3 separate regions of the Homo sapiens genome follow, and all the other regions are linked to region 3. The links come from fine-mapping of genetic effects on gene expression. A gene starts in region 3. Each other region holds a variant in brackets. All regions are shown on one strand. Distances are from middle to middle.

Region 1 (10,339 bases), 25 kb after region 3:
GGAGTCCTGCACCCCTGGAGGAAGCAGAGGAGGGCTGTGTCCCACACTGGAGACCCGCACCCCGGGAGGAAGCAGAGGAGGGCTGTGTCCCACACTGGAGACCCGCACCCCGGGAGGAAGCAGAGGAGGGCTGTGTCCCACACTGGAGACCCGCACCCCGGGAGGAAGCAGAGGGGGGCTGTGTCCCGCACTGGAGACCCGCACCCCGGGAGGAAGCAGAGGGGGGCTGTGTCCCGCACTGGAGTCCCGCACCCCGGGGGGAAGCAGAGGGGGGCTGTGTCCCGCACTGGAGTCCCGCACCCCGGGGGGAAGCAGAGGGGGGCTGTGTCCCGCACTGGAGTCCCGCACCCCGGGGGGAAGCAGAGGGGGGCTGTGTCCCGCACTGGAGTCCCGCACCCCGGGGGGAAGCAGAGGGGGGCTGTGTCCCGCACTGGAGTCCCGCACCCCGGGGGGGAAGCAGAGGAGGGCTGTGTCCCGCACTGGAGTCCCGCACCCCGGGGGGAAGCAGGGGAGGGCTGTGTCCCACACTGGAGTCCCGCGCCCCGGGAGGAAGCAGAGGGGGGCTGTGTCCCGCACCCCGGGGGGAAGCAGAGGGGGGCTGTGTCCCGCGCTCTGCGGGGAAGCAGAGGGGGGCTGCTCTCCTTGGCGGGCCCTGTGGGCAGCTTTGCACCTATCTGCTGCGGACTCCACGAATCTCACGGCCCAAACGCACGGGTGTGCTGACTTGTCAACTGGGGGTTCCCATGAGGCGGGGGCAGTGCAAATCTGCCTGGGGTTCTGATTCTGTGCGGATGGCTTTCTATCCACCCCAGCTTCCCTGCCATGTGTCTCCGCCAGCTAAAAGGATTTTGTACCTCCCATTTTAAGGACAAGTGGCTCTCGGCTAGGAGGGCAGTTGAGTTCCACTCTCTGCCGCCTGAGTGTCTGAGATCACCCGGGTTGCCGTGTCACTGCTGACACACACGCCCCTACCGTGTGCACCCGCTTTGATGCCGATGGGGGCCATCCAGTGTGCACCCCCCTCACTGGAGCGGCTGCTGGGTCTCTTCTTTACCACCTGCTTTTGAATTAACTATGCTAGAAAATTCGGCTGTGATATTTCTCCCAGGCATTTTTTTTTTTTTTTTTTTGAGACGGAGTCTCGCTCTGTCGCCCAGGCTGGAGTGCAGTGCTGCAAACTCGGCTCACTGCAACTCTGCTTCCCAGGTTCAAGCGATTCTCCTGCCTCAGCCTCCCAAGTAGCTGGGATCACAGGCGCCCCACCATCACACCCAGCTCATTTTTCTATTTTTTGTAGAGACAGGGTTTCAACATGTTGGCCAGACTGGTCTCAAATTCCTGACCTCAGGTGATCCACCCGCCACAGCCTCCCAAAGTGCTCGGAGCCACCACGCCCAGCCTCTTCCAGTATTTTTATGTGTGTGAGGCAGAAGGGACGATTTCCCATGTTGACCAATCCACCATATTGACAGAAGTTCCATATATCTGCATTACCTAAACTTTCATGACAAGCATGTATTTGTTTTAAACAATTTTAAAATACCTTAATCCAATAAAAGAATTAAGACCCTTCAAGTGGTCCTAATCCCAACAGGCTGAAAACCACCGGCCTGAAGATCACCTTGGGAATCCAGCCGACACGCGTGGCCCCTGAGGCCCCCCATTCCTGCGTGGTTCCTAAAAGCATATAAAAAACTCTTTCACTGCTCATTTTCGTAAAGGCTACAGTGTAACACTCCATTTCACTTGCAGCTCAGCACGCAGTCGCTCCACACCCTGGGGTGCGGTGAGTTTAGTCTGCAGGTGCGAACACGGAACAGGTGGACATGCCCTCCCCACTCACCTCTGCGTGGGCGACGGAGCCTTTCCCGCCCGCCGGGCCCTCCCCACTCACCCCTCCATGGCCAGCAGGGCCCTTCCCCTCCCCCGCCGGGCCCTCCCCACTCACCCCTCCGTGGGCGGCGGAGCCCTTCCCGCCCGCCGGGCCCTGGGGCAGCACAGCTTCCCGATTCCCACGTGCCTCTGCGTCTCGGCGCCACGGGTGACTTTCGGTCCAGATGCCAGCAAAGACATCTCTCTGTCTACCAGGCAACCACCTCCATCCTCACCTCCTCACGGGCAGACTCTAACTACCTCCGCTCTCTCCACAAATGCCAGTGCGAGCGCAGCCTCGCCGGGCCGTGGGCTGCGTCCAGGGCTACAGTAATGAGCCGGAGGGCAGCGTGGGGAGGACACCAATGCCGGCACCTTCTCCCGGGCCCTCCACGCCCAGACACGGAGGCTACGCAAATCTGCCCCAAGCGCAGAGGCGAGCGGGTGCCCACAGGAGACAGAGGACCTCGCGCCGGCCGAGGCAGGGCTCAGTCCGTGGAAGAGCTCTGGCGGCACCAGCGCATGTGGTAGCAAAATCCCCACGCAGCCGCTCCTAGCTTCCCGCCAGAATACCTCGAGATGCCAGGAAGGAAAGCGCACACACCACCACAAAAGCTAAGCTAAACAATCCGCTGTGAAAATCAGGGAGGCACGTCCTCCGACGACAAGGATGCCGAGCAGGGCTTCCATCTTCATGGTGCGGCTCCGAGAGGAAAAGCCAGCCACCAAAGACCCCTCACCCCTCTCCCCGCGCCGGCACCTCCCGGGCCAAGGTCTCCAAATCTAACGGAGGCTGGGAAGGGCCCCTCAGTGCGAAGGCACGGCCGCCTGGGCAGCCTGAGCGCTCTTCCCGCGCCTCCCGCCACGTCTTCCCATGGCTCCCGTGGGGCAGAGCGGGAGCGGGTGTCGGGGGTTTGGGGAGATCCACCATGGGGCCGCATCCCGAGGGAGCAGACCGGGACACGGGCCTCGCGGGGCCTGTGCGGCCACAGCGCTGTGGGGCGTGGGAGGCCGCTGTCTGTGTAGGGCAAAAGCCATAAACACAAACAGCCCAACTGGAAAAATATTTGAAACATGAAGGATAGATAAAGGCTCTTAGTTTAAGAAGTGTGTTTGCAAATCAGTACAGAAAAGATAAATTACAATAGAAGTGGTTAAAAAAAAAAAAGCAAAAACCACACACAGGCAATTCACAAAAAAAAACCAAATGACCAATATGTACATGGAAAATGACCATCAACCGTAATCTTAGAAGCTGAAATTAAAGCAATCACGCCAGGTGTGGTGGCACACGCCTGTAGTCCCAGCTACTCCAGAGGCCGAGGCAGAGAACTGCTTGAACCCAGGAGGTGGCGGTTGCAGTGAGCCGGGATCGCACCAGGGCACTCCAGCCTGGGCGACAGAGCGAGACTCCGTCTCAAAAGAAAAAAGCAAAAAAAACAACAAAAAACATTTAATGTCTGGCTTGGTGCTTTGCAGTCTGCCTGTCTAATCTGTGGTAAACTTTTGAGGAGGCGGCACCAGATATAACATGTCTCTGTTATTTTTAGAATTAACTGATTAAAATGTTTTGCTATTTAAAATAAATAAATAAAATAAAGCAATCACCAGCTATCACTGCTTCCTGTCACACTGGATCACAACACCCAGGGAGGACACAGGGTAGCAGGTGTTCTGCTGCGGCCCAGGCCTCATATAACCATCTTGATGGCAAAGGTTTTCTCAAAGTGCAACTTTAAGGGAAAGACATAAAATGAAACCAACTACTATTCTCATCCATGGCATAACACAAAGGTGTTGAACAAAACAGTCTTTATTCAAGGGCCTGCTGTTTGTCGTTTTGCTTAAAGTCACAGTTTCTGGCCAGGTGAGGTGGCTCATCCCTGAAATCCCAGCACTCTGGGAGGCCAAGGCGAGAGGATCGCTTGAGCCTGGGATTTCAAGACCAGCCTAGGCAACGTAGGGAGACTCTGTCCCTACAAAAAATACAAAATTTAGCTGGGCATGGTGATACATAAACCTGTGGTCCCAGCTACTTGGGAGGCTGAGGTGGGAGGATCACTTGAGCCAGGGAGGTTGAGGCTACAGTGAGCCAGGATCACGCCATTGCACTTCAGCCTGGGTGACAGAGGGAGACCCTCTCAAAAAAAAAAAAGTTGCAGTTTCCAAGGGCCTCGGGGCGGGTGACACTGAGTGAGGACTCGCTGTGGATGGAAAAGCAAACATGCCCACTGCAGAAATCCTCAGCACACGCGGCTGCTACAGACGTTAACCACGGCGTCATTTCACGGTGGCAGAATCAGTCTTTCTGGTTTCTTCCATAAATTTCTCTGTATTTTCTAATTTCTTTTACATTAATCATGTATAACTCAGGAAAAATAATACACATTACTTTTTTAAAATTACATTTTGCTGAGTTCGTTTCTGTTGACCACAAAGAAGCAGCGCTGGCAAACATCTGGGCTGATCACAGCAGCAATGACAGCATTAGATGGAAATTCCACTGACATGGAAACAGTGGGCTTTCTGGAATATGGGGAAGTGGATCCTGTTTTCTTTGGCCCAGAATGAGGATGGTCAGATCTCCATGGCAGTGAGGAAGGCCGGCGAGCCTCCAGTTTCTCAGCAGTTCTTTGGATCTGACCAGCAGGCTGAGAAAGCCCAGCTTAGAGATGAGAGAGGCCGGCCGGGAGCCCAGTGCCAGCTAACAGCTCACCTGCCCTGCGGCCCGGCCTCCACCTGCTCACTCTGAGAGACGCCTGGCAAGGTGGCTGGGACGGCTACCCCCAAAAGGCTCCTGGAGAAAGAGACCACAGGAGTGCCCCACACAGACAGGGTGAACGAGCCTCCTCGGACAGGAACACCGTGGATGGCCCCACATGAAGCCAGGAAAGTCCCACGGAACCTGGCAGCTTCCAGCAACGATTGGGCCAATAGCACATATCACGAGCCTTGGAAAAGCAAACGAGCTTTAATTCTGCTTCTCCTAATTCCTAGGACATTAATCGGCTGTCCTCTTCGAAACGGGAGTGCTGTGATCCAAATGGC[TA/T]AAAAAAAAAAAAAAAAAGAAAAAGCGATCACACCATGTGCCAGTGAGGGTGCGGGGTCCGGCCTCAGCTGTGCTTGCAGTGCGAACGCAAAACGGCACGGCCACTCTGGAGAAGCGCAGCGGCTTCGTAAACATCTAAACATGCATGCACCATGCAACCCGGCAGCCACGTCCTGGGCACTTACCCCAGAGCGATGGAAACGTATGCTCAGGCATATTTACAGAGCTTTACTCACAAAAGCCAAAGCCCAGAGATCCAAATGTTCTTTGCACCGTGGATGAATAAGGGTCTATAAAGCAGCAGCACCAGGAGCCGTGCAGTGCAGGATCCTCCTGTATCTTGACCGCCACAGTGGTGGTTACAGGAAGCTATGCACCTGGAAAAACTGCAGGGCGCACACACACGCACACACCCGCACGTACAACCGTGGACTCTGGACGAGCTCTGTGCGAGGCATCCACGTCGATGTCCTGGGGAAGCCAGGCCACACAGGCCCCTCATGCTTTTTTTTTTTTTAATTTACTAAGAATCTACCGTTATTTTAAACATAAACTTGCTTTAAGAGAAAGTGCGAGTGAGCGCCCTGATGGCACTGGCTTGCTGAGTACTGTGTTTTCACACTGTCCCCCAGCAACCAATGCCCTGAAAGCCAGGAGTGCCCGCTCCCAGAAGGCGCCGCCCGGGCAGCAGCAGCTGCTCCTGTTCTCTGCAGGCTGGTGCTGTTCCTGTTCGGAGCAGGTGTGCGACCCACATGGCAGGGGCACGGACTTGCTTCGACCGTCCACACTGAGAAGATTCTGTAAGCATCACGAGGTGCTGATGGGTCACCACGCCCCACAGGATGCAGAACAGCTGGAATCGGATGGCAGCGCTGGGCAGGGACTCGGAGCTCATCTACTTCACATCTCACGCTCCACAGGACTCCTTCCCGGGCGGCCCTTACGACACCCACCTCGTCCCAGCCCGAGCATTTCCCAGGACAGACTCATTACCTCCTCTTAGACAGCACTGATTTTCCGACAGCGTGCCTCATCCCAAGCCACCACCTGTGCCTGTAATTCCTACCCGCGGGTGCCAGCTCTGACTGCCAGGCAAGGAGCGGTGCAGAAACTCTGAGCCATGGCAGGCTTCGAGGGGCAAAGGGGCTCCAGGACCCGGCCTGGACGGCAGGAGGCCACGCTCTGCTCCGGGGCTCTTCTCAAACTTGTCTCCAGGGAGCGAATGGAGAGGCCCGAGCTCAGAAAGAAGTACAAACCTCTCAGTGGCTCAACTTCCCGTCGACATAGATACTAATTTTATATTTCAAGTTAAATGTCCTCTTGTTGCTCACTGATGCCCTATTCTTCTCCTAATTAACCCGCAGTGCAGCGGTGCCCATGGCAAGCTTTCCCACTGTAGCAAGGACACGGCCCTGATCATTTCCCACAATAAACCCAGAGTCCTGCCAACTTCCCAAGGGGTGCAGGCCAGACTGTGCGGCCACTGGCCCATACAAGGGCCGGGCTGTTCCTTACTCAAAGTGCAACCACTGGGCCTCTTCCACGTGGTAGGAGACGCAGAACTGGAGGCAGAAAGACCTGCTGCCTAAGTGCCACGATCTGTCAGGGCAGAGGCCGCCCGCAGCTGGGGAGTGACCTCAGACGCAGGTCCTAAGCTGCAGGTTAAAGAGGCAAATGCGCCCCTGTCACCAGCGTGAATTGTGGTGAGCCTGGAGAAGTGCTGTTTCTGCCTTGGTTGGACTCGATGTTTAGACTCGGAGAATGAAACTTCAGCCCCCTGGTCAAGTCCCCGGCAGCCTCTGTGGGTAAATCAGCTTTGGTTGGACACGGCTGCCCCCGCTCGGCCGCTCATGGCCTAACGCTGTTCCTGCTCCACAGGCCGTGATGGGCGCGGGGCCCAAGGGCTACCCCCTTCCCCAGCTGGCCTTTACGGAAGGACTGAGGCCAGCTCTCCCATGGGTGAGGGAAAGAGATGGTGATCAGGAACACCAGCAAACCAGGGCTGACAAGAGCAAGGAATCGCCAGGCCCAAACCGCGGGGTGAGCCAGGGCTCAGAAACGAGGGTGGCCCGGGAGCCATTCTGCCCGGGCGATGGGCAGGTGTCTGAGGCCCCACGGGGCAGGAGGGGAGGTGGAGGGGCTCGCAGGAGAGCTGCCCCTGCCCCGCACAAAGCAGCTGCTCTCACAGGGTTGCAGGGTTGGACGTGGGTGGGAGCCATGGTCACTCTGCAGCCTTCCCAGCAACCCCATAAGCACCAAACTCCCTGTGTTAAACCCCTTCCTGTTTGAGATGCCTGTGGGGGTCCTGTTTCGCCTTTGTGGATACCGTGGGCATGTCTGTTACCAGACTGCAGTCCACAAAAGTGAAAGCTCATGCTTTGGCGGAGACAATTCAAAGTCTCTACTTGCTTAAAAATTCTCATCTTTTGAGATAAATAAGATCCAAAAAGATATGCCTCATTTTATAATAAATCTTTGCTGTTTTTTAGGAGTGTTTCTTGGGGAGAGGGAAGAAACTGTTTGATTTTCATCATGTCTGGGTGTTAAATTTCTCCAAACACTTCTTGGGCATTCACTGAGATGAGAAACGGCCCCGGCCCTGCCACTGCCCACCCTTCGGGAAACGCCCCACCACAGACCCAGCCCCCAGGCTCGCCCTCACCGGGCGCCAGGGGATGTTTGCTATTTAACACAGAGAACAGGAAATCAGGAGGCGCTCCCCATCACCTCCCAGGTCAGACGCCATCCACCCTCCTCATCACCAACGCCCACGCAGGATGACTTCACTACAGCTCTACGGACCGGCTTCCATCACCAACGCCCATGCAGGATGACATCACTACAGCTCTACGGACAGGCTTCCATCACCAACGCCCAGGCAGGATGGCATCACTACAGCTCTAGGGATGGCTTCCATCACCAACGCCCACGCAGGATGATGACATCACTACAGCTCTAGGACCGGCTTCCATCACCAACGCCCACGCAGGATGACTTCACTACAGCTCTACGGACCGGCTTCCATCACCGACGCCCACGCAGGATGATGACATCACTACAGCACTACGGACCGGCTTCCATCACCAACGCCCACGCAGGATGACATCACTACAGCTCTAGGGATGGCTTCCATCACCGACGCCCACGCAGGATGATGACATCACTACAGCTCTAGGACCGGCTTCCATCACCAACGCCCACGCAGGATGACATCACTAAAGCTCTAGGGACGGCTTCCATCACCAAAGCCCACGCAGGATGATGACATCACTGCAGCTCTACGGACCGGCTTCCAGCACCGACGCCCACGCAGGATGATGACATCACTACAGCTCTACGGACCCGCTTCCATCACCGACGCCCACGCAGGATGATGACATCACTACAGCTCTAGGGACCGGCTTCCATCACCAATGCCCATGCAGGATGACATAACTACAGCTCTACGGACCGGCTTCCATCACCAACGCCCACGCAGGATGACATCACTACAGCTCTAGGGACTGGCTTCCATCACCAACGCCCACGCAGGATGACTTCACTACAGCTCTACGGACCGGCTTCCATCACCAAGGCCCACGCAGGATGACATCACTACAGCTCTACGGACAGGCTTCCATCACCAACGCCCATGCAGGATGATGACATCACTACAGCTCTAGGGACAGCTTCCATCACCGACGCCCACGCAGGATGATGACATGACTGCAGCTCTACGGACCGGCTTCCATCACCGACGTCCACGCAGGATGATGACATCACTGCAGTTCTAGGACCAGCTTCCATCACCGACGCCCACGCAGGATGATGACATCACTGCAGTTCTAGGACCGGCTTCCATCACCGACGCCCACGCAGGATGATGACATCACTACAGTTCTACGGACCGGCTTCCATCACCGACGCCCACGCAGGATGATGACATCACTACAGTTCTACGGACCGGCTTCCATCACCGACGTCCACGCAGGATGATGACATCACTACAGCTCTACGGACCGGCTTCCATCACCGACGTCCACGCAGGATGATGACATCACTACAGCTCTACGGACAGGCTTCCATCACCAACGCCCATGCAGGATGATGACATCACTACAGATCTAGGGACCGGCTTCCATCACCGACGCCCACGCAGGATGATGACATGACTGCAGCTCTACGGACCGGCTTCCATCACCGACGTCCACGCAGGATGATGACATCACTGCAGTTCTAGGACCGGCTTCCATCACCGACGCCCACGCAGGATGATGACATCACTGCAGTTCTAGGACCGGCTTCCATCACCGACGCCCACGCAGGATGATGACAGCACTACAGTTCTACGGACCGGCTTCCATCACCGACGCCCACGCAGGATGATGACATCACTACAGCTCTACGGACCGGCTTCCATCACCGACGCCCACGCAGGATGATGACATCACTACAGCTCTACGGACCGGCTTCCATCACCGACGTCCACGCAGGATGATGACATCACTACAACTCTACGGACCGGCTTCCATCACCGACGTCCACGCAGGATGATGACATCACTACAGCTCTACGGACCGGCTTCCATCACCGACGCCCACGCAGGATGATGACATCACTACAGCTCTACAGACCGGCTTCCATCACCGACGCCCACGCAGGATGATGACATCACTGCAGCTCTACGGACCGGCTTCCATCACCAACGCCCACGCAGGATGACATCACTGCAGTTCTACGGACCGGCTTCCATCACAGACGCCCACGCAGGATGATGACATCACTGCAGTTCTACGGACCGGCTTCCATCACCGACATCCACGCAGGATGATGACATCACTACAGCTCTAGGACCGGCTTCCATCACCAATGTCCACGCAGGATGATGACATCACTACAGCTCTATGGACCGGCTTCCATCACCGACGCTCACGCAGGATGATGACATCACTACAGCTCTACGGACCGGCTTCCATCACCGACGCCCATGCAGGATGACATCACTACAGCTCTACGGACCGGCTTCCATCACCAACGCCCACGCAGGATGATGACATCACTATAGCTCTAGGACCGGCTTCCATCACCGACGCCCACGCAGCATGACATCGCTACGGCTCTACCGACCAGCTTCCATCACCCACACGCCTTTTTCATTTTGTTTTGTTTTCTAGAGACCAGGTCTTGCTACATTGCCCAGGCTGGCCCTGAACTCCTGAGCTCAAGGGATCCTCCCACCTCGGCCCCCCTAGAAGCTGGGACCACAGGCCTGTGCTTATTCAAAAACAGACAAAAAGGAAGCCCATCGTTCCTGCTACGGGAATGCTGCCAGTGTCACATGCTGCCCATCTTCTCATCCAGAGAGCCACACTATGTTTCCTTCAGAATTCAACTGAGACCAAAACAAGAAAACCACAGCACAACGCTTACCCAGCAAAA
Region 2 (10,339 bases), 72 kb after region 3:
GAACACTGATTTTATTCTCTATGTTTGAGACCAAAAGTTATTTGGTTTATGGTAATATAACTGTAAAGTATTGAACATCATATACTAAGATAGTTGGTAACCACCAACCAGGACCCATGACTAGGAACGGATTAAGCCTGACAGCAGCCAGTTCACTAGAGAAGCTCCTTGAGCTGGGCGTGGTGGCTCACACCTATAATCTCAGCACTTTGGGAGGCTGAGGCGGGCAGATCATAAGGTGAGGAGTTCAAGACCAGCCCGGCCAACATAGTGAAACCCTGTCTCTACTAAAAATACAAAAGTTAGCTGGATGTGGTGGCATGCGCCTGTAGTCCCAGCTACTCGGGAGGCTGAGACAGGAGAATCGCTTTAACCCGGGAGGCAGAGGTTGCAATGAGCCGAGACGGCACCATTCACCATGGCACTCCAGCCTGGGTGACAGAGCAAGACTGTCTCAAAACAAACAAACAAACAAACAAACAAATGAAACGCACATGAACAGAATGGATCTAGAAAGCCATGTGAATTCTCCATCTCAGGAGGGAAACTAGTAAATTCCAGTCAAGAAAGACGAACCTGACCTGGGATCCCTCATATTAAAGAACATTTATAAAACTGAAAACTCAGGCCCCTCGCAGTTTAGGACAGGGATAACGCAGCGTTAGGACTCTTCTTTTCTACTTTGTACATAAACTATTGGGAGTAATTTTCAGGTAGCAAACTGACTCTTCCCAAGGAAAAACCAGGCTTCCCAGATGAAGGAACTGAGGCGGGCTCTGTCCTTACCTTCTCTTTCTTCTTCCCAGGGTGAGAGTCACAGTCTCTGTCAATGTGATCACCAACCACCACGTCTGGTATCTGGCCCTTTTTTACTGGGATGGGGGTATTACAGAGTGGGCATACTGGGACGTGAACATCCTAAAAATAACAAAGGTAAGATGGCATCTGAGACTCATGCAACTTAAACTCACAGAAGTTTTAAACGAGTACTCCTGTGCGGCACACTTAAACACAAAGAGAGGACAAAAACCGGTCTCCCGAGCCCTCCGAGAACAAAGCATCACTGGGTCATGGATTAGCGGCAGCCATCTCTAGAATGTGGGCATCAGCTGCCCTGAGGAGTCTAGTGAAGTTTCAACGAATGGACTTCAGCCGACTGCAGAAACCAGCTGGGGCCATCTCAGGCTGGCACCGCCCAGGTGAGAACAGAGCCTGCCCAGACACCTCCACAGGGAGGAGATGGAGGGAAACATGGACCACAAAGACCCTCCAGCTCCCCTCAGTCGCCAACGGCCTGATCCCTTTGCGGTTTCCCCAGTGGCTTCTACGTACACAGAGAGTTGCTTGCGCCCAGATGAGGCCACGTGTACCTAGGGTGAGCTCCCAGGTACTAACGACCGTCACTGGCTGCAGGCCAAGGTTGTGAGGGCTCCAAAGGGGTGGACCGCCCAGCAAGGCTAAAAACCTGAGCTGGGGGCTCCGAAGGGGTGGACTGCCCAGCAGCTGAAGGCCCAGCAAGGCTAAAAACCTGAGCTGGGGGCTCCGAAGGGGTGGACCGCCCAGCAGCTGAAGGCCCAGCAAGGCTAAAAACCTGAGCTGGGGGCTCCGAAGGGGTGGACCGCCCAGCAGCTGAAGGCCCAGCAAGGCTAAAAACCTGAGCTGGGGGCTCCGAAGGGGTGGACCGCCCAGCAGCTGAAGGCCCAGCAAGGCTAAAAACCTGAGCTGGGGGCTCCGAAGGGGTGGACCGCCCAGCAGCTGAAGGCCCAGCAAGGCTAAAAACCTGAGCTGGGGGCTCCGAAGGGGTGGACCGCCCAGCAGCTGAAGGCCCAGCAAGGCTAAAAACCTGAGCTGGGGGCTCCGAAGGGGTGGACCGCCCAGCAGCTGAAGGCCCAGCAAGGCTAAAAACCTGAGCTGGGGGCTCCGAAGGGGTGGACCGCCCAGCAGCTAACGCCCAGCATGGCTAAAAACCTGAGCCAGGGCAGGAATTGATGGAAAGGTCAATGAGAAAACCGAGGTGGCAACCGACATGGAACGGGTGGCAGGTGCTCACGGAATTATGAGCACACCCGTCTACAGCCCGAGCTGGGAGAGTCACAGGTGGTGGTGCTTCCTCATTTGGTCAAATGAAATAAAGTATTAGTAAACGGTCTCCAGCCAGACCCCACCCCATGCTGGGGCAGGAAGGGGCAGTGGGAAGACAAGCTGGGCAGTCTGGCTTAGTCATCCGTGCCTAGTAAACGCAGGGAATGTGAGTCACCCTCCCCACCCACCGTGATGGCCTAAAAATGGCTGGAGGGTCAGACCCTGGCCAACACTGGTCAAAGCACAGAATGCTGGGCCACCCACATTACCACTGCCACCACGGTCAAGTGGCAGAGTTCACTAAAATGACCTGTGACCCATCCAGAGACAAAGTAAACACGGGCTGGGAACCATCTGAAAAGTCAACAACAAGTCTCAAACCTCTGGACTCGGGGCAAGCTCATTTCCTTAGGTCCTCTTTCAGTTTCTGCTGTGTACTCTGGGAGTCACCTAAATACTATGTCAAGGCTGCAGTTATTCAAATCAATAAGCGTATTTACTGCCTTCCTGATTGGCTTCCAAGTCAAATATTAAAATCTTTCTTGCATCTGGTGAAGACACAGCTATGGTGTAACAGCTATGGTGTAACAGATCAAAGGAACCAAGTATTTGAACATCTAAAGTAAGCTTGGAACATAAGGTTACAACTAAGTGACTCCATGAGTCCCTGAAAATAAGATCTCAGTTGTCTGAGAGTCATCCAACAGAATGTCCTGTGAGGGCAGACACGCTCCTCTGTACTGCCTAACAGCAGGCACCTGAAACGAGGCTAGTGGGACTGAAAAACTGGATTTTAAAATTTAATTTTCAATGAGTTAGCCATACGTCGCTAGTCCCTACCATACCAGCAAGACAGTGCAGCTTCAGACGGTGAAGATGAGAATCTTTTGAACAAAGGATCAATTACCTTCTGGAATGCAAACGGACACTTATGTGCAGCGTATGGAAAATGATCTTTACAGAAATCTTGTTTACATGCATCACATTTTACTGGAAGAAAATCTAAAAAACAAAAAACAGGGAAGTGTTTTAACGACTGGAACAAAATACTTCCAGATAGTACTATCAAAGTGTTTACCTACACTAAGTGTTTTAGGCCTATGAGATGGACAGGTCCTCGAGGGCCACACATGTGAAAACAATCCCAGGGTCAGGCTGTCTTCTAGAGACCCCCTATGGCATCGCAAGTATTCCAGCAGCCCCCTGGATCCACCTGGCCCTGCTAGCCAGCCTGCACTCCTGCACCCAGCCTCTGGTGGATGCTAAGTGTCAAACAGAACCTGCACCAGCACAGTTCCCAATACTGAGGAGCCAGGAAGGCCAAGACACAATTATCAGCTAATTAACAGAACAGCCAGCTTTCCCCCAACAAAATACCATTTTCTATTAAGTCTCTTAAAAGTACTCACCTAGCTGCTTGCAAGTCTTTTCTGAACAATGCTTCCCCAAATCAGGAAACTCCATTATGAGAACAGTGCTCAAAACGCAGATGGCGGAGTTAAGTGTCACCTACAAGAGAATCAGAATAGTTAGGAGGAAAGCTGGACTGCCCTTCAGTCACCAGGATTTACAATGTAATTACAGCTAATGAAAGTCAACAAACGCACTGTGTGGGGAGCATTCCATGGAGTTTTAGTACAAATACCAGGTGTCCGCCATTCGTAGTCAACCCCATTAAGAGACACGGACTCCTTCACAGGCCTTTTAATTCCTAGTCTATGAAGCACTCCTTGAACTCGGGTTTCTATTTAAACTCACACTGAGGGGGCGAGAGCTAATTCACACAGCTGCCAGTGATGATTACGACTTTGGTGAATTTTAAGTCACAATTTTATCCATGGAATATACTTGTTCACATAAACAAAACTCTGTTACTAGGTGCTAAATCACATCAGTTGACTCCATTATCCAGAGAAGATTTAACTCTGTCCCTCGCCTCTCTCTTCAACTCCCTTAGGCATTGAATCTTACTGTGAACTTATTCCTCGATGACATCAACCTGGAGTTGATCAGGGAGAAGCGCAAGCTGTTAAGTCACTATGGAAAACAGGCAGACAGCTGGTGAAACTACCGCACTCGAGAGAGAATCAAGGGGCTCACGAGGTCCCCTCCATGATCTAGTACCCACCAGCCCTCCCGGGGCCTTTTCCTGGGGCTCACGAGGTCCCGTCATCTAGTACTCACCAGCCCCTCCCGGGGCCTTTTCCTGACCTTCCCATCAGCTCTCTCCCCACTCCTGGAGGCCTCCTAGACTGTCGCCTAAGACTGGAACACTCTCGCCCATGGCAAACGTCTAGTTATCCCCTCCCGCCTCAGTTTAAAGCCATTCCCACCCTCCCCAGTTCCCTCTATGTTACACGCCCGCTACTTAAGGTGCCCATTAGTCCTTTCCCAGCCCTCCTTCGCCCACAGCTTCCAACTACAGATCCGCTGCTTTACTATTAGCTCCCGGTGCCCGACACACAGCAGGCGTTCCGAAATTGTTTTGTTCAAGGAATTCACAAGAGTTTGATGTGAATCCCCAAATGATTTTGTTCTGGACGCACAGCACCCGTCCTAGGAAACCAACACCCTACCCTGGCGGGCCGGGCCCGCAGCAAGAAAACACACATCTACGTGGCTGTCACTCGGCTGGCGGGTTAACGACCCCGTGCGACCCGGTACTACGGCCCCGATGGCAGGCCCGGCCCCCAGCAGACAGCCGGACTCCCAGCAGACAGGCCGGACCCCCAGCAGCCAGACCCCGGCAGGCCCGGTCCCCAGCAGACAGCCGGACCCCCAACAGCCAGACCCCGGCAGGCCCGGTCCCCAGCAGACAGGCCGGACCCCCAACAGCCAGACCCCGGCAGGCCCGGTCCCCAGCAGACAGGCCGGACCCCCAGCAGCCAGACCCCGGCAGGCCCGGTCCCCAGCAGACAGGCCGGACCCCCAGCAGCCAGACCCCGGCAGGCCCGGTCCCCAGCAGACAGCCGGACCCCCAACAGCCAGACCCCGGCAGGCCCGGTCCCCAGCAGACAGGCCGGACCCCCAGCAGCCAGACCCCGGCAGGCCCGGTCCCCAGCAGACAGGCCGGACCCCCAGCAGCCTGACCTCCAGCAAGCAGCCGGACTTTCAGCAGCCGCACTCCTAGCAGACAGGCCGAACCCCCGAGCAACCTGACCTCAAGGCAGGCCCGACCCCCGGCAGACCCTGTCTGCGCAATCCCGGCCCCGTACCTGGCTCTCGTCGGGGACCCAGGCAGCTGAGGTGAGCAGCAGATGGAAGAGACGTAAACTCAGGTGTCCTCCTCCGTAGTCGGCTCCGGGTAGCTAAGCAGAAAGAACCTCGACACTGGCACCGAGACGCCGTCGGAGGCACACCCACACCCACACCGGAACGCAACATCTCGCTGCCCGCGGCCTACGGGGATTTATCCGCAGCCCCCGGATCTGAGAGCCGTCTGGGCCTTGGGGTTTCCGGGCGCGCCCCGACAACGTCACCCGCAGACCGGCCAATCCCGCCAGGCCGCGGCCCAGTGGCGCCGGCGCACACCGAAGACGACACCAGCCATCCGGCCAATCCCGCCCCGCCGCGCCCCGCAGGCCCGCCCACT[C/T]CTCGCTTCTCCACTTCCCTTCTCGAAGTGTCCGGTCGCTTCTCGCAGGCGGCGCGCTTGCTGGGTCACAGTGAGGCGGCTCCGCGCAGGCGCAGCCGGGCGGGCGAGGAGCGGGGAAGCTGACTCAGGGCTGCGGCCGGGGTCCTGCGGGGTAGGAGCGCGAGGCCGGCCTGAGGGAGGAGGCCTAGCGACCCATCCGGCGCCTCCCGCCCCGGGCACCCGCCCGCGGCCGCGCATCCTGCGGGCCCCAGGAGGCCTCCATCTCAAAACAACGTGTTTTTAGGTAATTTCAAACTTAGGGAAAAGCTTCAAGAATAATACCGAAAATGTCAGTGTCCCCAGCACCTAGATCCCCCAGTTAAATCCTTTTCCATTTCACCGCGCTGCCCCCCGCCCCCTGGACGGTTATGTGGCCGCGTGGGGTTGGCTCTGCCCAGGGCCGCGGTCACTGCACAGAACGCCCTGCACGTAAGGGGCTCCGCCTGGGTAAGACCCCGCCCAGCTGGGCAGGAGGAGGGCGTGGGCCCAGGACATGGAGACCAGCCTGGGCAACATAGCGAGACCCCATCTCTGCAGAAATAAAATATTAGCCGGACGGTGCACGGTGGCTCAGGCCTGTAATCCCGGCACTTTGGGAGGCCGAGGTGGGAGGATGGCCTGAGGTTAGTGTCTCACATGTCTGTGTGAAGAGACCACCAAACAGGCTTTGTGTGAGCAACAAGGCTGTTTATTTCACCCGGGTGCAGCCCGGCTGAGTCGGAAAAGAGAGTCAGCAAAGGGCGATGGGATTATCATTAGTTCTTACAGGTTTTGGGATAGACGGTGGAGTTAGGAGCAATGTTTTGCAGGCAGGTGGTGGATCTCATAAGGTACATTCTCAAGGGTGGGGAGAATTACAAAGAACCTTCTTAAGGGTAGAGGAGATTACAAAGTACATTGATCAGTTAGGATGGGGCAGAAACAAATTACAAGGGTGGAATGTCATCAGTTAAGGCTGTTTTCACTTCTTTTGTGGATCTTCAGTTGCTTCAGGCCATCTGGATGTATACATGCAGGTCACTGGGGATATGATGGCTTAGCTTGGGCTCAGAGGCCTGACAGGAGTTCAAGACCAGCCTGGTGAACATGACGAAACCCTGTCTCTACAAAAATAAGAAATGAACGCAGCATGGTGGCATGCACCTGCAGTCCCAGCCTCTTGGGAGGTGGAGGCATAAGTCAGCTGTGAATGCGCCCTGCACTAGAGCCTGGGCAGCAGAGCAGACCCTTCCTCAAACCCAAAAAGCGTCGTGCCAACCAGACCAGATGGTCGCCTAATCAATAGAGACCATGCCCAATCAGGTAAGGACAGACACAACCAGGCATGCTTTTTCTTGTTTTGTTTTTTGTTTGTTGTTTTGAGATGGAGTTTCACTCTTGTTGCCCAGGCTGGAGTGCAGTGGTGTGATCTCGGCTCACCGGAACCACCACCTCCTGGGTTCAAGCGATTCTCCTGCCTCAGTCTCCCAAGTAGCTGGGATTACAGGCATGCACCACCAGGCCCGGCTAATTTTGTATTTTTAGTAGAGACGGGGGTTTCTCCATATTGGTCAGGCTGGTCTCAAACTCCCAACCTCAGGTGATCTGCCTGCCTCGGCCTCCCAAAGTACTGGCATTACAGGCGTGAGCCACTGCGCCCAGCTTGTTGTTTTTCTTTAGACAGTGTCTTCCTCTGTGGCTCAGGCTGAAGGGCACTGGGATGATCACAGCTCACTGCAGCCTCCACCTCCCAGGCTCAAGCCATCCTTCTTCCTCAGGCTCCTGAGTAGCGGGAGCTACAGGCATGCGCCATCATGCCTGGCTAATTTTTGTATTTTTTGTAGATACGGGGTTTTGCTATGTAGCCCAGGCTGGTCTTGAACTCCTGACCTCAGGTGATCCCTCTGCCTCAGCTTCCCAAAGCGCTGGGATTACAGAACATGAGCCACTGTGCCCGGCTTATTGTACAGTCTTTACTCTCGGTTTTCACCAGAGAACTCAAGGGCTGTGAAAAGAGCAGGACCTCACCAGCTGCACGGCGGTGGTGACTGGCTCCATCTTGCTGTCCCTCCCAATCACACAACATCTCCCCTTGAAGGCTCTGCCCAGGCCCGGACTCCCACCTTTCAAGATGTCTGGATCAGTGCAGGACCTCCTCCTTGGCCACATCGCTCTCCTTGGACTGGTTCGTTAACCCTGTTTTACCCACATTTTCTTTTTTTTTCTTTTTCTTTTTTTTTTTTTTTCTGAGACAGAGTTTCATTCTTGTTGCCCAGGCTGGAGTGCAATGACTCGGTCTCGGCTCATTGCAACCTCCGCCTTGCAGGTTCAAGTGATTCTCCCACCTCAGCCTCCCAAGTAGGATTACAGGTACACACCACCACGCACAGCTAATTGTTTTGTATTTTAGGAAGAGATGGGGTTTCATCATGTTAGCCAGGCTGGTCAGGTGATCCATCCGCCTTGGCCTCCCCAAGTGCTGGGATTACAGGCGTGAGGCACTGTGCCCGGCCTGCCCCCCTTTTCTCTTGATGTAAGTGGACATTTTAATCCATAATCTGTAACATTTATGTATTAAGTTTACTACTATCTTTGGTTTGCAGTGTTGACTCACCTGTGGAGTGGTCTGAGCCTGAATGCCCGGGGCTGTGGCCACCGAGTGAACGGGCTGTGCTAAGGGGAATTGCCACCTTGGGAAACCTGTGTAGTTGCGGCTTTTCTGATTAAGTATCAATAAAAGTCTGACCTTGTGAAAAAAGCAAACGTGAGTGGCCCTGCTTATGTTTCACCTTGCGTTGCTCAGTGATAGTTCTGCAAAGTCGCAGGAAACCTGGAATCATCTAATTATCGTGAGTGTTGGTGAGTAACACCCATAGGCACTGGCTCCCGGGGAAATACAGAGTCAGGTTCCTCCGAGCCGCTGGCCACAGCATTTTTGTTAAGCAGTTCATCGTTAACCTTGTTGTACATGTCTCTCTCTCAAGGTTCCTTATTTAATAATGTCTAGTTGATTCATTAACATGGAATTCATGGCCAGTACCTCTGTCACTCATGCCTGACTGAAGTTGATCAGCACGTCTTTTTCTCCCTTAGGCACATGACAGCCTTCTTGCAATCAAGAAACTACGTGTGGCCAGGTACGGTGGCTCACGCATGTAATTCCAGCACTTGGGGAGGCCAAGGCGGGTGGATCACCTGAGGTCAGGAGTTTGAGACCAGCCTGACCAGTATGGTGAAACTCCTTCTCTAGTAAAAATACAGACATTAGCCGGGCATGGTGGTGCACACCTGTAATCCCAGCTACTCGGGAGGCTGCGGCAGGAGAATCTCGGGGGTGGAGGTTGCAGTGAGCTGAGATCGCCCCACTGCACTCCAGCTTGGGCAACAGTGAGACTCCATCTCAAAACAAAACAAAACAAAAAAATTGGCCAGGTGTGGTGGGGGGCGCGGCGCACCTGTAATTCCAGCTGCTCAGGATGTTAAGGCAGAAGAATCGCTTGAACCTGGGAGGTGGAAGTTGCAGTGAGCCTAGATTGTGCCACTACACTCCAGCCTGGTTGACAGAGTGAAGCTCTGTCTCAAAAAAAGAAAAGAAACAATACTAAGTTCTGATTCTCAGACCCCATTCAGTTTTTTTTTGTTGTTGAGACGGAGTCTCGCTCAGTCGCCCAGGCTGGAGTACAGTGGTGCGATCTTGGCTCACTGCAACTTCTGCCTCCTGGGTTCAAGCGATGCTCCTGCCTCAGCCTCCTGCAGATTTTACAGACAGTATCAACAATGTCTCTTTTCCTTTCCGCTCCAGGATCTCATCCACTATCACAGTTTCAGCTTTCCCCAAACTGGAATGTGTCTTTGCAGACGCCCATCCTTATTAAAGGGCAAAGACTTCTCATACACCTAGGATGGATCTTATATTCTTGGCGGGACTGCAGAGAAGGTGCCGTGTCCTGAGTCCTCATGTCAGGGCACAGGCTTCCAGCCAGTTCTACCTGGGTTATGTTTATCTCAATTCCCTGGTGGTATTGGTGTCTGCTGGGTTTTGCCAGAATGAAGACACCGTGTTTTCATTTGTCAGTTGATTCGTATTTTCCAGGAAGACATTCTGAGATTACAGCATTGTCTTAGTCAAGGTGCTGCAGAAGGACAGAACTAATAGGATATATGTACATATGAAAGAAAGTTTATGAAGAACTGGCTCACACCATCACAAGGCAAAGTCCCATGACAGGCCATCTGCAAGCTGAGGAGCGAGGAAGCCAGCAGTGGCTCAGCCGGAGTCCAACAGCCTCAAACGGAATCCAACAGTTCAGGCTTCAGTCTGTGGCCAAATGCCCAGAGACCCCGGAAAGCTACTGGTGTTAGTCCCAGAGCCGGAAGGCCAAAGAACCTGGAGTGTGATGTCCAAGGGCAGGAGGAATGGACAGAAGCATCCAGCATGGGGTAAAGACGAAAGCCAGAAGACTCAGCAAGCTAGCTTACCTACTTTCTTCTGCCTGCCTTGTTCTAGCCGCGCTGGCAGCCGGTTGGAGGGTGCCCACCCCCACTGAGGGTGGATCTTCCTCTCCTAGTCCACTGACTCAAATTTCAGTCTCTCTGGGAGCACCATCACACCAGAAACAATACCAGCCATCTAGCCACCCTTCAGTT
Region 3 (10,339 bases):
CACCCTGCCCACTCTTCTGTAAAGTGCCCCTGGCACGACGCTCCCAGAGAACCCAAGGATGCGCCCAGAATGCTCCCAGCAACCACTGAGGGGGCCCTGCTGGGAGACCCGCAAAACTGCCAATGCCTTGTAGGCCAGCAGCCGCACGCGCCTTCAGTGCTGGAGTCACGCCCAGGGGCTGACGGGCCAGATGGTCTCTGAGTGCAGCAAATTCCGTCTTGTGAGGGAAAGTGATAGAAGATGAGAGTGTGGGCCGGGCGCGGTGGCTCAAGCCTGTAATCCCAGCACTTTGGGAGGGTGAGGCGGGTGGATCACGAGGTCAGGAGATCGAGACCATCCTGGCTAACACAGTAAAACCCCATCTCTACTAAAAAAAAATACAAAAAATTAGCCGGGCCTGGTGGCAGACGCCTGTAGTCCCAGCTACTCGGGAGGCTGAGGCAGGAGAACGGTGTGAACCCGGGAGGTGGAGCTTGCAGTGAGTGGAGTTCGCACCACTGCACTCCAGCCTGGGCGACAGAGCAAGACTCCATCTCAAAAAAAAAACAAAAAAAACAAAAAAAAACACGAGAGTGTGGAGGCGCAGACGACGGGAGCACCTGAGCTTCCGTGCTCAGCATGCTGTGGTCAACTGTGGTCTGCACACACCCACCGTTAACTGGGCCCTCCAGCTGCAGACACCAAACAGGGACAGGACGGCGGCACCGACGCGCCCACGTCCACCAGTGCCAGGCGACACAGCAGAAAACCAGGATGCCCTGCCCCTCACCGCACTGTTTCCGGGCTCGGCAGGCACACACCCTGAATGAAAGGCTCCAACCTGGCGCGGAGCCACGGCCTGCGTGCTTCTGAAGGAACAAGAGAGACGAAGTCACTGTGGGCCGCACCACGTCCTGACAGCAGCTAACCTCCCCAGGCCGGAATGGAACAGATGGAAGACATGGCAAGTCTGTCTGAGGGGAGGTCACAGGATGTCCCTAAAGTCAGGATATGGCACGGAATGCAGAAATTGGAGCAGAGTTCCAACCCCGCCTGCCACTGGTGCGGCAAAACCCGCACACCCCACACACAGCTTCCTTGGGACCTGGGCTCTTTCTATAAAGGGGCTGCTGGTGCATGTCTCCTTAATGCTCCAGGCCTGTGAGGATCGGATGCCCGAGGGTGCTCCTGCATGTCACGCGGAGGCGGGGGACGCCAGCGATGCCCTCCCGGGGGCGTGGGAAGGGGCTCTCGGCCTCCCTTGACTCTCCATCATCAGAGAATGTGTCCGCCTGGCATGTGAGACACGGCGCACTTCTCCGAACCTCGGGCTGTCTTCCAGCATGTGTTAGCTCTAGAATTCCTTCTGCACACAGCTTGATGTCTCCCCTGTAAGGTGGATCCGGCGCGTGGTACTGTGAGCACCTCCAACCAACTGCTCCCTCCCTTGTGCCTATGGGGGAGAAGCGAATGAGCCAGGACTGGGCTAATCTCAGGCAGTGCCGCCCCACCCTTGCCCCTGGTGGACCGCTCCCCTTGAAAAGGAGCAGCAGTTGGTGGGAAGGGAAGCCTCACTCCGCCCAGCAGAGACAAGGGGTGTGTGGGATCTCACAGAACCGTGTAGACCCACGCACCCCCACTGTACAGATGGGCACTGAGGCTCAGGAAGGTTAGAGACGTTGCCCGGTATCACACAGCACGTGGGGTGAGGAAGTGGAACCCGGGCTGGAGCCGGCAACGCTGAAAACCAGGGTTGTTTGGACGGCGACATGCAACTCCCTGAGGGCTCTGCTCCTGCAGAATCAGGGGGACCCATGCTGCTGCCTACCATGGAGGGCATGGGAGAGGACTGGGGATGGGACAGGGAGCAGGAAGGGGTTGCTCAGTCAGTCAGTGCTGGCAGAGGGAGGGGCGCTGGGAAGGCACTGCAGGCCCTGTGTCTGGGGCCTCTCAGCACAAGGACTGGGCTTTGCACGCGAGGACTGAAGGGTCAAAGGCGAGGGCCAAGGTTTCCTACGTGGCATTCACTCGGGAGGGCTCCTGAAGCTGGAGACACACTGCCTTACTTTGTGCGTGTTTTTCTCTATGCATTATCCAGTATTTGGCTATGTGTGCATTTAGCTCAATAAGCAATGATCAGATGAAATTCCCCTTGAAGTTCTTTCCTTTTATTCTATCCTGGGGATGAACAGAAAAATATTTTCACTTCTTAAAAATTCATAACGACATCAGATCCAACAAGGAAATCAGTGCCTGAAAAGATGACTATTGACCCAGGACGCCTCTGGTGTACAGGCCGAGACCATGTGCTCAGAGTCAGCCGGCCCCTCCCAGATCTGCTCCTGGCCAGCTGTGAGGCCGCGGTGACACCACCTCCCTGCAGTCAGTTTCTGCAACCATGAGACGGGGAGAAGGACAGCCCTGCCTCACAGGCTCTGAAGGAGGGTGACCTAAGATCAAGCACGCAGAGCACCGCACAGCGCCCAGCATGCATGTGTACAATGTCACATTCTACACTGAAGGAGGCTGAGACAGGAGGATCTCTTGAGCCCAGGAGTTCAAGACCAGCCTTGGCAATACAGTGAGACCTTATCTCTACAAAAAAATTAAAAAAAAAAAAAAAATTAGCGGCTCGCATCTGTAGTCCCAGCTACTCAGGGGCCGGGGTGGGAGGATGGCTTGAGCCTGGGAGGTGGAGGCTGCAGTGAGCTGAGATCAGGCCACTGCACACTGGCCTGGGCAACAGAGCAAAATCCTGTCTCAAAAAAAAAAAAAGATTTAAAAATCGGCAAAAGGTCTCTATGCCTTACAAATAGTCCACGAGATTCCTGCCATGCCGTCACACATCAAGTATTAAGTAGGTCTTGGAGACGGAAGTTCCTGCAGTCCGGGCCCTGTCTCTTACATCAGTAGCTGTACAGTACAAGTTACTTACCCGCCCAGTGCCCACAGGAGAAGGCTGCGCTCCAAGACCCAGATGCCCCGATCCGCTGACTCTATGCTGCAAGCAGGAAATCTAGGAGTATCGGCCACTCGCCCGCCCAGGGCAGGCTCCCCAGGAAACCCAGGGCACGTGAGTGGAGAGCTTGGGAGCTGAGCTCTTCCTCAGCCGCTGGGATGGGCAGAGAGACCAGAAGCCATGGGTTTGCACTAGCAGGGTGCAGCTATTTTTAAGTGACATGTCTCAGCTATTTCAAGGTTTGAATTTTTATTTTACTTATTTTTTTCTGTACTTTCTCATGACTCACATCTTTCAAAATTGTGTCTCAGGCATTTTTAATGCTGAAATCATCTCAACTTCACAGCTGGTCAAAAAATGTCTAAGAGCAAATCAGCTCTTTATCATCCAAATACAAAAAGGTACATATTAGAGTTGTCAACTTTCTACTGCTGGAAGAAAACTCCACGTTAGTATTTTTCCATTAAAAAATTAACACAGCATTCTGTTTAGGAAATGTGTGTATATTTCCTAAAATACACATCTGAAAGACTTTAAATTGCTATTGCACAGATGCCTTGAGCCCCAGCAGGTCCCGAGGGGCCGAGTGCCCCTGGAGGCCCAGCACCCCACTCTTGCACCTGCACCAGCTCTCCTGGCGGGGAGCAGGTCCCGAGGGGCCGAGTGCACCTGGAGGCCCAGCACCCCAGTCCTCTGCCTGCACCAGCTCTCCTGGGGGGGAGGGGGAAGGGGGGAGCCCACGCAGGTCTCTGAACCACGCCTCAGGCTGCAGCAGCCGCATTACTCATACTCAGCGGACAAAGGATCACTCAGCATTCAATCTCACCACTTCAAAACATTACAGAGGGAAAACGACACCTAGAAGTAGGAGTGAGATTCGCTGAAGTTCCCTTCTGAGGAAGACCCACCCCTCCGCCTGGAGAGCCGGGGCTGGCGGTGCCTGAGGACCCCTTCGGCCTGGACAGCCCACGCGGGCTTGGGGGGCCTCGCTCTGCCCTCATGGGGCGGCCATCGGTTCCCGAAGCGGCGAGTGAAAATTCAAATGGCCAGTAGGGGGCGCACTCGGAAGTGGCCGCCCCGCATGAGGCAGTTCAGCGGCCCCGAGAGTCCGGGGAGGGAGGTTTATTCTCCGCCTGCACGAGACTGTGAAATCCGCAACCATGAGCAGGAGAGGCGGCCCTGGTGGGGAAGAGGCCACCAACATCTGGACGGCAGGTAAGTTCCGACGCTTCTGCAGCGAGCGCGGGAGGAGGGACCTGAGGCACCGCTAACACTCAGAGAAAACTACCGGCTGAGGGTCCCTGGTCTGAATGCTTGGGACCGGAAGAGTTTCGGAGTTCAGATTTTTGCAGATTTTGGAATATCTGCAGGTACAGAATGAGAAAGCTAAATACGAAATTCATTTGTGTTTCATACACACCTTATACACACTGCCTGAAGGCAACTTTATAAAAACACTTTTAACAATTTCATGCATAAAACAAACTTTGAACTGCCTGGACTGCAGCCCGCCACACGAGGTCAGGTGTGGAATTTTCCACTTGTGTCACGACGCTCCAACAGTGTCGGACTGTGGGGCACTCTGGATTTCAGATTTCCAGATGCTTAACCAGTACTCAGATTCCTAAGTTACTTGTCAGAAATGCCTATTTCTTGGGATTACACTTCTCTCTGCAAATGTCTGTGAAATTCCTGTTAAATTCTTTATGGATCATGCACATGCTACTAAGTTAATTATGAAATTTAGTGTTTAACGCAGGTCAGTTGCAAAAACAAGAATATTGCTTGCTTCAACCCAGGAGGACAGGTTATTGCCTAAAAGATACACAACACCTAGTATGATGCCTTCAAACTTAAAGAAAGGTTTGTATCTGTGGGTGAAGAAAAGCAGTTAAACCAGAAACTTCCACAAAAACAAGTCTAGTAGAACTGAGCTGATTGCCAAAGTGTGGGAGAAAAAGGGCCAGCAAAAAAATGGTTAACACTAGCCTTCTGAGGAGGCCGCCCAGAGCCTGGCCAGAGAGGAGCCAGAGAGGAGCGGGGCGGAGGGGGCCTATAAAGCCCTGTGCCAAGGGGCAGACTCACTGGCTCAGAGGGAGGACGCACCCGCCAGCCAGCCGGGAACCTTCCCTCGCGGGCTCCCAGGGCGGGTCTCTTCCTCTCTCTAGCCCTGCTCAGGCATTCGGCAGGTCCAGCAGAGGTACACCTCCTGCAGCGGGTTCCAAGTGCACCTCCAGCCTGATGGGCCTGACCAAGGAGGCTTCCAGGAGCACAGAAGGGGCTGCAACCCAGGTAGGACTCAGCCTCGGCCTGGCGGTGCCATACCACTGACTAGGGGAGCGGGTGGGTGGTGCCACCCAGGCCGCTGTCCTGTTATGGGAACAGCTGAACACAGACCAGACACCTCACCCCCTGGTGAGAGCAGCACCCAGCTTCCCAAACTCAAGGCACAGACCCCTCTCCCCCGGAGCTCCGGTGGTCTCAGCGTGACCGCAGCAGGGGCTTTGCCTGGACGGCCTTTCTAACTCGTGCTGAAAGCAGGACCCAGTATTCCGTCACGTTCTGTCCCAGCAAGAACGTGTCTCACTTCAAGAAAATGAGGGTGCCCACTCTGCCCTGCCCTGCGGTGCCCCAGTCACTCTCACCAACCCTGAAGCCCTGGGAGGGCCACACGCCTTTTGACAGATGCAGACTTAATACAGCTGACTAAAGTGTGGCTTTATTTCTCTATGACAAGCAGAGGAAATCTGAAATGAGGTATTGCACTGTTTATAACTCCATGGCCACCTCCAGTGAGGACGTGGGGCCAGTGGTGAATGGCACACTAGGTTCCTCTCACCCAGGACCACATCAGACACTAGGACACATCAGACACCAGGTCCCGTATCTTCTCGGTGTCTGGCAACGATCAAAAGACTCAATTTACATGGGAAAGAAATGAATGACTCGTTTTTAAACTATTTTTCCCTTGGAGTTCATTTAACAAAATTAGGAAAGAAAATAAACGTTAAGTTGAGGGTTCTGCCCACCTTTAAACTTCCTGCCACGCCACGGTCTAATACGTTCCAAAATTTCTACATTTAAAGAGCAAAACAAGTCCTCTGTGCCGTTTTTAAGAAATTAAATACAGAGGCGAAATGCGGAGTCTTTCAACCTTCCCGACAGAGCCTGAGAGCAGAGGCATTTATGCTGTTCAATGGTATTATCTACTAAAGATGAATCAAGAGTGCAAAATAACCAAAATCAAATTCACCAGCCCCAGCTAAGTGAAGGTTATTCAGTACTTTTAGAATAACTGACACAGAGGCAGTGATTCATCTTGTCTTCCCCACCCGCCTGTTTTTGAGATGGGGCCTCACTGCAGTAGCTCAGGCTCGAGTGCAGTGGTGTGATCTCGGCTGAGGCTCGAGTGCAGTGGTGTGATCTCGGCTGAGGCTCGAGTGCAGTGGTGTGATCTTGGCTCACTGCAACCTCTACCTGCCAGGCTCAGGCGATCCTCCTGCCTCAGCCTCCCGAGTAGCTGGGACTACAGGCGCACACCACTATGCCCAGCTACTTTTTTTGTCTTTTTTTAGTAGAGACAGGGTTTCGCCATGTTACCCAGGCTGGTCTCGAACTCCTGAACTTGAGCAATCCTCCCACCTCATCTTCCTGAAGTGCTGGGATTATAGGCCAGCCTTTTTTTTTTTTTTTTTTTTAAGTAAGTATTTTCAAGCAATAGGTCAACAAATCTCTAGTCTGGTTTTGCAGCACTTCAAAACAATAACCCCTGGCCCGGCGCGGTGGATCACACCTGTAATCCCAGCACCGTGGGAGGCCAAGGCGGGCAGATCACTACAGGTCAGAAGTTCGATACAAGCCTGGGCAACATGGTAAAACCCCATCTCTACTAAAAATATAAAACATTAGCCAGGCGTGGTGGTGCACACCTATAATCCCAGATACTCAGGAGGCTGAGGCAGGAGAACCACTCTAACCCGGGAGGCGGCAGTTGCAGTGAGCCGAGATTGTGCCACTGCACTCCAACCTGGGTGACCAAAAAAAAAAAACATTCAAAACAATAACTCCTAATGATTTCAAAAGGTAAAATGAAAATTCCCAAAGGAAAAACAACTCAAACCCATTTTGAAGTGTTAGTTTACTCCAGGGCACCAGCACCATCTGGGCCAGGTAATTCTCTGCTGGGCTTGGGCACCTGTCCTAGGCACTGTAGGGAGCTGAGCGGCAGCCCTGGCCCCACCAGCACCCCCCTGTGACTGCCCCCGCATCCCCAGAGACTGCCAGTGTCTGCAGGCTGAGACCCCCGTGGCCCGCTGCATAGAGAACTTCCAGGAGCACAGTGACACGGGGCAGGTGACGGGACCCTCCCCACTGGCGGCAGAGCCGGGGTGACACGGGGCAGGTGACAGGACCTCCCCACTCGCAGCAGGGCCAGGGTGACACGGGGTGGGTGATGGGACCCTCCCCACTGGCGGCAGAGCCGGGGTGACACAGGGCAGGTGATGGGACCCTACCCACTGGCGGCAGAGCCGGGGTGACACGGGGCGGGTGACGGGACCTCTCCACTGGCGGCAGAGCCAGGGTGACACGGGGTGGGTGACGGGACCCTCCCCACTGGCGGCAGAGCCCGGGCACCGCCGTGGGCGGACAGCCCACTTCTCCCTCTCTGCAGAGGATAAGCTCGGGAGGGACTCTCTCCCTGGAGTTTCTTCCTAGGTTACAAACAGCATTGCAAAAACATATTAGGTTTTACAATAATTTGTTAAAACATGAAATAAAAACGTACATATTATTTCCCAAAACAATGACCCCTTTCACTCTATATTACGAAAATAAGTTTATTTTTGGTACCTAGAACACAGAACTAGCATGAGGAAACCGCTGAACTTCTGTTTTATCGTAAGAGAAGATTCTGCTCTGATGTCCAGCTTTCTGGACCCACTCTCTCTCTCTCAGAAACACTGGCTTTCCCTTCCTATCTTACTTCTCCATCAGCTGCTGAAATGCATTTTCCCCTCTCCTCACAAATGCCGTTGTCCTGGGGCGGCCGTGCCCATACCTTCATTGCTTCCTGGGCCTGCTCTGTGGCTATAAAGGGAAAAACACCCCTGCCTGTGGGAGTGACTCACGTCCAGCCTCCAGCTGCAGCTGAGCAGCCGTGGGACCTGCAGGAAAGAAGGCCATGTACTTCCCACAGGCGACTCTTCCACCTCAGCTCAACCACAGCCACCTCCCGAGCTCATAAAGCTGAGGTTCTGGCCCTCCCCAGTGCTCCTGACACACCCAGACTCTACAGACACCCGGCCAGGGGAGCCAGGCCTTGTCCCAAAGCTGGGGCCACTCGATGAGACTTCATCCTCTCCTGTTGCTTCTCCAGGTACCCAGAGAGTGAGCAGCTCCACGCGGGACTGTGCACGGTGGCCGACACCCGCAGGGACGCCCGCCGGACGAGCACGCGGAGGGCCCTCGCCTCCACGGATGCACCATGCCGGTGTGAGGAGCATCTGTTCTTCCCACTCTCTGCAGTTAACAAACCCAACCCAAACCACCACAGGTGCTCCTCCTGGGGAGTTTCCTGTCTGACAAATGCCAGGCTCACTTCAAGGAGAATCACGCTTCTTTCTAAAGATGGATTCACCATTTAAAACAGAGCTCTGGGAGCCTTTCGGCAAATCTTGAAAGCTGCACGGTGCAGAGACATGGATGTGACTTCCCAAGCCCGGGGCGTGGGCCTGGAGATGTACCCAGGCACCGCGCAGCCTGCGGCCCCCAACACCACCTCCCCCGAGCTCAACCTGTCCCACCCGCTCCTGGGCACCGCCCTGGCCAATGGGACAGGTGAGCTCTCGGAGCACCAGCAGTACGTGATCGGCCTGTTCCTCTCGTGCCTCTACACCATCTTCCTCTTCCCCATCGGCTTTGTGGGCAACATCCTGATCCTGGTGGTGAACATCAGCTTCCGCGAGAAGATGACCATCCCCGACCTGTACTTCATCAACCTGGCGGTGGCGGACCTCATCCTGGTGGCCGACTCCCTCATTGAGGTGTTCAACCTGCACGAGCGGTACTACGACATCGCCGTCCTGTGCACCTTCATGTCGCTCTTCCTGCAGGTCAACATGTACAGCAGCGTCTTCTTCCTCACCTGGATGAGCTTCGACCGCTACATCGCCCTGGCCAGGGCCATGCGCTGCAGCCTGTTCCGCACCAAGCACCACGCCCGGCTGAGCTGTGGCCTCATCTGGATGGCATCCGTGTCAGCCACGCTGGTGCCCTTCACCGCCGTGCACCTGCAGCACACCGACGAGGCCTGCTTCTGTTTCGCGGATGTCCGGGAGGTGCAGTGGCTCGAGGTCACGCTGGGCTTCATCGTGCCCTTCGCCATCATCGGCCTGTGCTACTCCCTCATTGTCCGGGTGCTGGTCAGGGCGCACCGGCACCGTGGGCTGCGGCCCCGGCGGCAGAAGGCGCTCCGCATGATCCTCGCGGTGGTGCTGGTCTTCTTCGTCTGCTGGCTGCCGGAGAACGTCTTCATCAGCGTGCACCTCCTGCAGCGGACGCAGCCTGGGGCCGCTCCCTGCAAGCAGTCTTTCCGCCATGCCCACCCCCTCACGGGCCACATTGTCAACCTCGCCGCCTTCTCCAACAGCTGCCTAAACCCCCTCATCTACAGCTTTCTCGGGGAGACCTTCAGGGACAAGCTGAGGCTGTACATTGAGCAGAAAACAAATTTGCCGGCCCTGAACCGCTTCTGTCACGCTGCCCTGAAGGCCGTCATTCCAGACAGCACCGAGCAGTCGGATGTGAGGTTCAGCAGTGCCGTGTAGACAGCCTTGGCCGCATAGGCCCAGCCAGGGTGTGACTCGGGAGCTGCACACACCTGGGTGGACACAAGGCACGGCCACGTCATGTCTCTAAACTGCGGTCAGATGTGGCTTCTGGCTCCTCGGGGCCTCGCGAGGGTCACGCTTGCCTGGTCACCCTGGGGCTGCTTAGGAAACCTCACGACTGGTCACCTTGCACTCCTCACACAGAATTGCTACAATCCCAAAGCGCTCGCCCCGCAGGGTCCAAAGGCCAGCGGTGACCAGCCTGTCACCCAGCTCCTCCCCGCCAACCCTGCCTGCCGCTGCACCTGCCTGCCGCTGCAGGAAACATTTCTGACACCGTCGACCAGGAAAGCCACACGGAGAGGCCACTGTGGGTGAAGCGCCTCAGTTACACAGGAACCCTAAAGCAAATCTGCCACCGTGGGGGAACTGACGCTGGAGATGCAAGGTGCTGGTGGGTCTGAGCTGGACGTCGCGGTGTGTCCTCTGTGCCCACGGTCTGAGCTAGCTAGCGCACCGCCGAGTTAAAGAGGAGAAGGAAAACATGCTGCTCTGGTGCACGCCTGAGCGT

Evidence for each region.
Region 1: its variant is fine-mapped to the expression of GPER1 in whole blood (INTERVAL, PIP above 0.99).
Region 2: its variant is fine-mapped to the expression of GPER1 in whole blood (TOPMed, PIP above 0.99).

What each region holds. Positions count from the first base shown.
Region 1 is chr7:1,107,785-1,118,123 of GRCh38, forward strand. The region is part of intron 2 of CHLSN (cholesin); the gene reads right to left. LOC102723758 (a long non-coding RNA gene) reads left to right here and starts at 4,991. Exons shown (of 4, transcript XR_007060183.1): 1 at 4,991-10,339. RefSeq lists enhancers at 461-1,004, 2,407-3,247, 8,617-9,816. The variant TA/T (reference allele first, on the strand shown) is at 4,921.
Region 2 is chr7:1,154,667-1,165,005 of GRCh38, forward strand. ZFAND2A (zinc finger AN1-type containing 2A) reads right to left here and starts at 5,530. Exons shown (of 5, transcript NM_182491.4): 1 at 5,298-5,530; 2 at 3,492-3,591; 3 at 2,990-3,084; 4 at 787-918. The coding sequence starts at 3,546. It overlaps ZFAND2A-DT (ZFAND2A divergent transcript), which reads left to right and starts at 5,708. Exons shown (of 3, transcript NR_110069.1): 1 at 5,708-5,957; 2 at 7,686-7,877; 3 at 9,495-10,339. RefSeq lists enhancers at 4,632-5,146, 5,147-5,659, 5,660-6,173, 6,174-6,686 and silencers at 5,469-6,008, 6,019-6,068. The variant C/T (reference allele first, on the strand shown) is at 5,675.
Region 3 is chr7:1,083,092-1,093,430 of GRCh38, forward strand. It overlaps GPER1 (G protein-coupled estrogen receptor 1), which reads left to right and starts at 5,022. Exons shown (of 2, transcript NM_001098201.3): 1 at 5,022-5,230; 2 at 8,316-10,339. The coding sequence starts at 8,638. The coding sequence ends at 9,765. All of the region lies in intron 2 of CHLSN (cholesin), which reads right to left.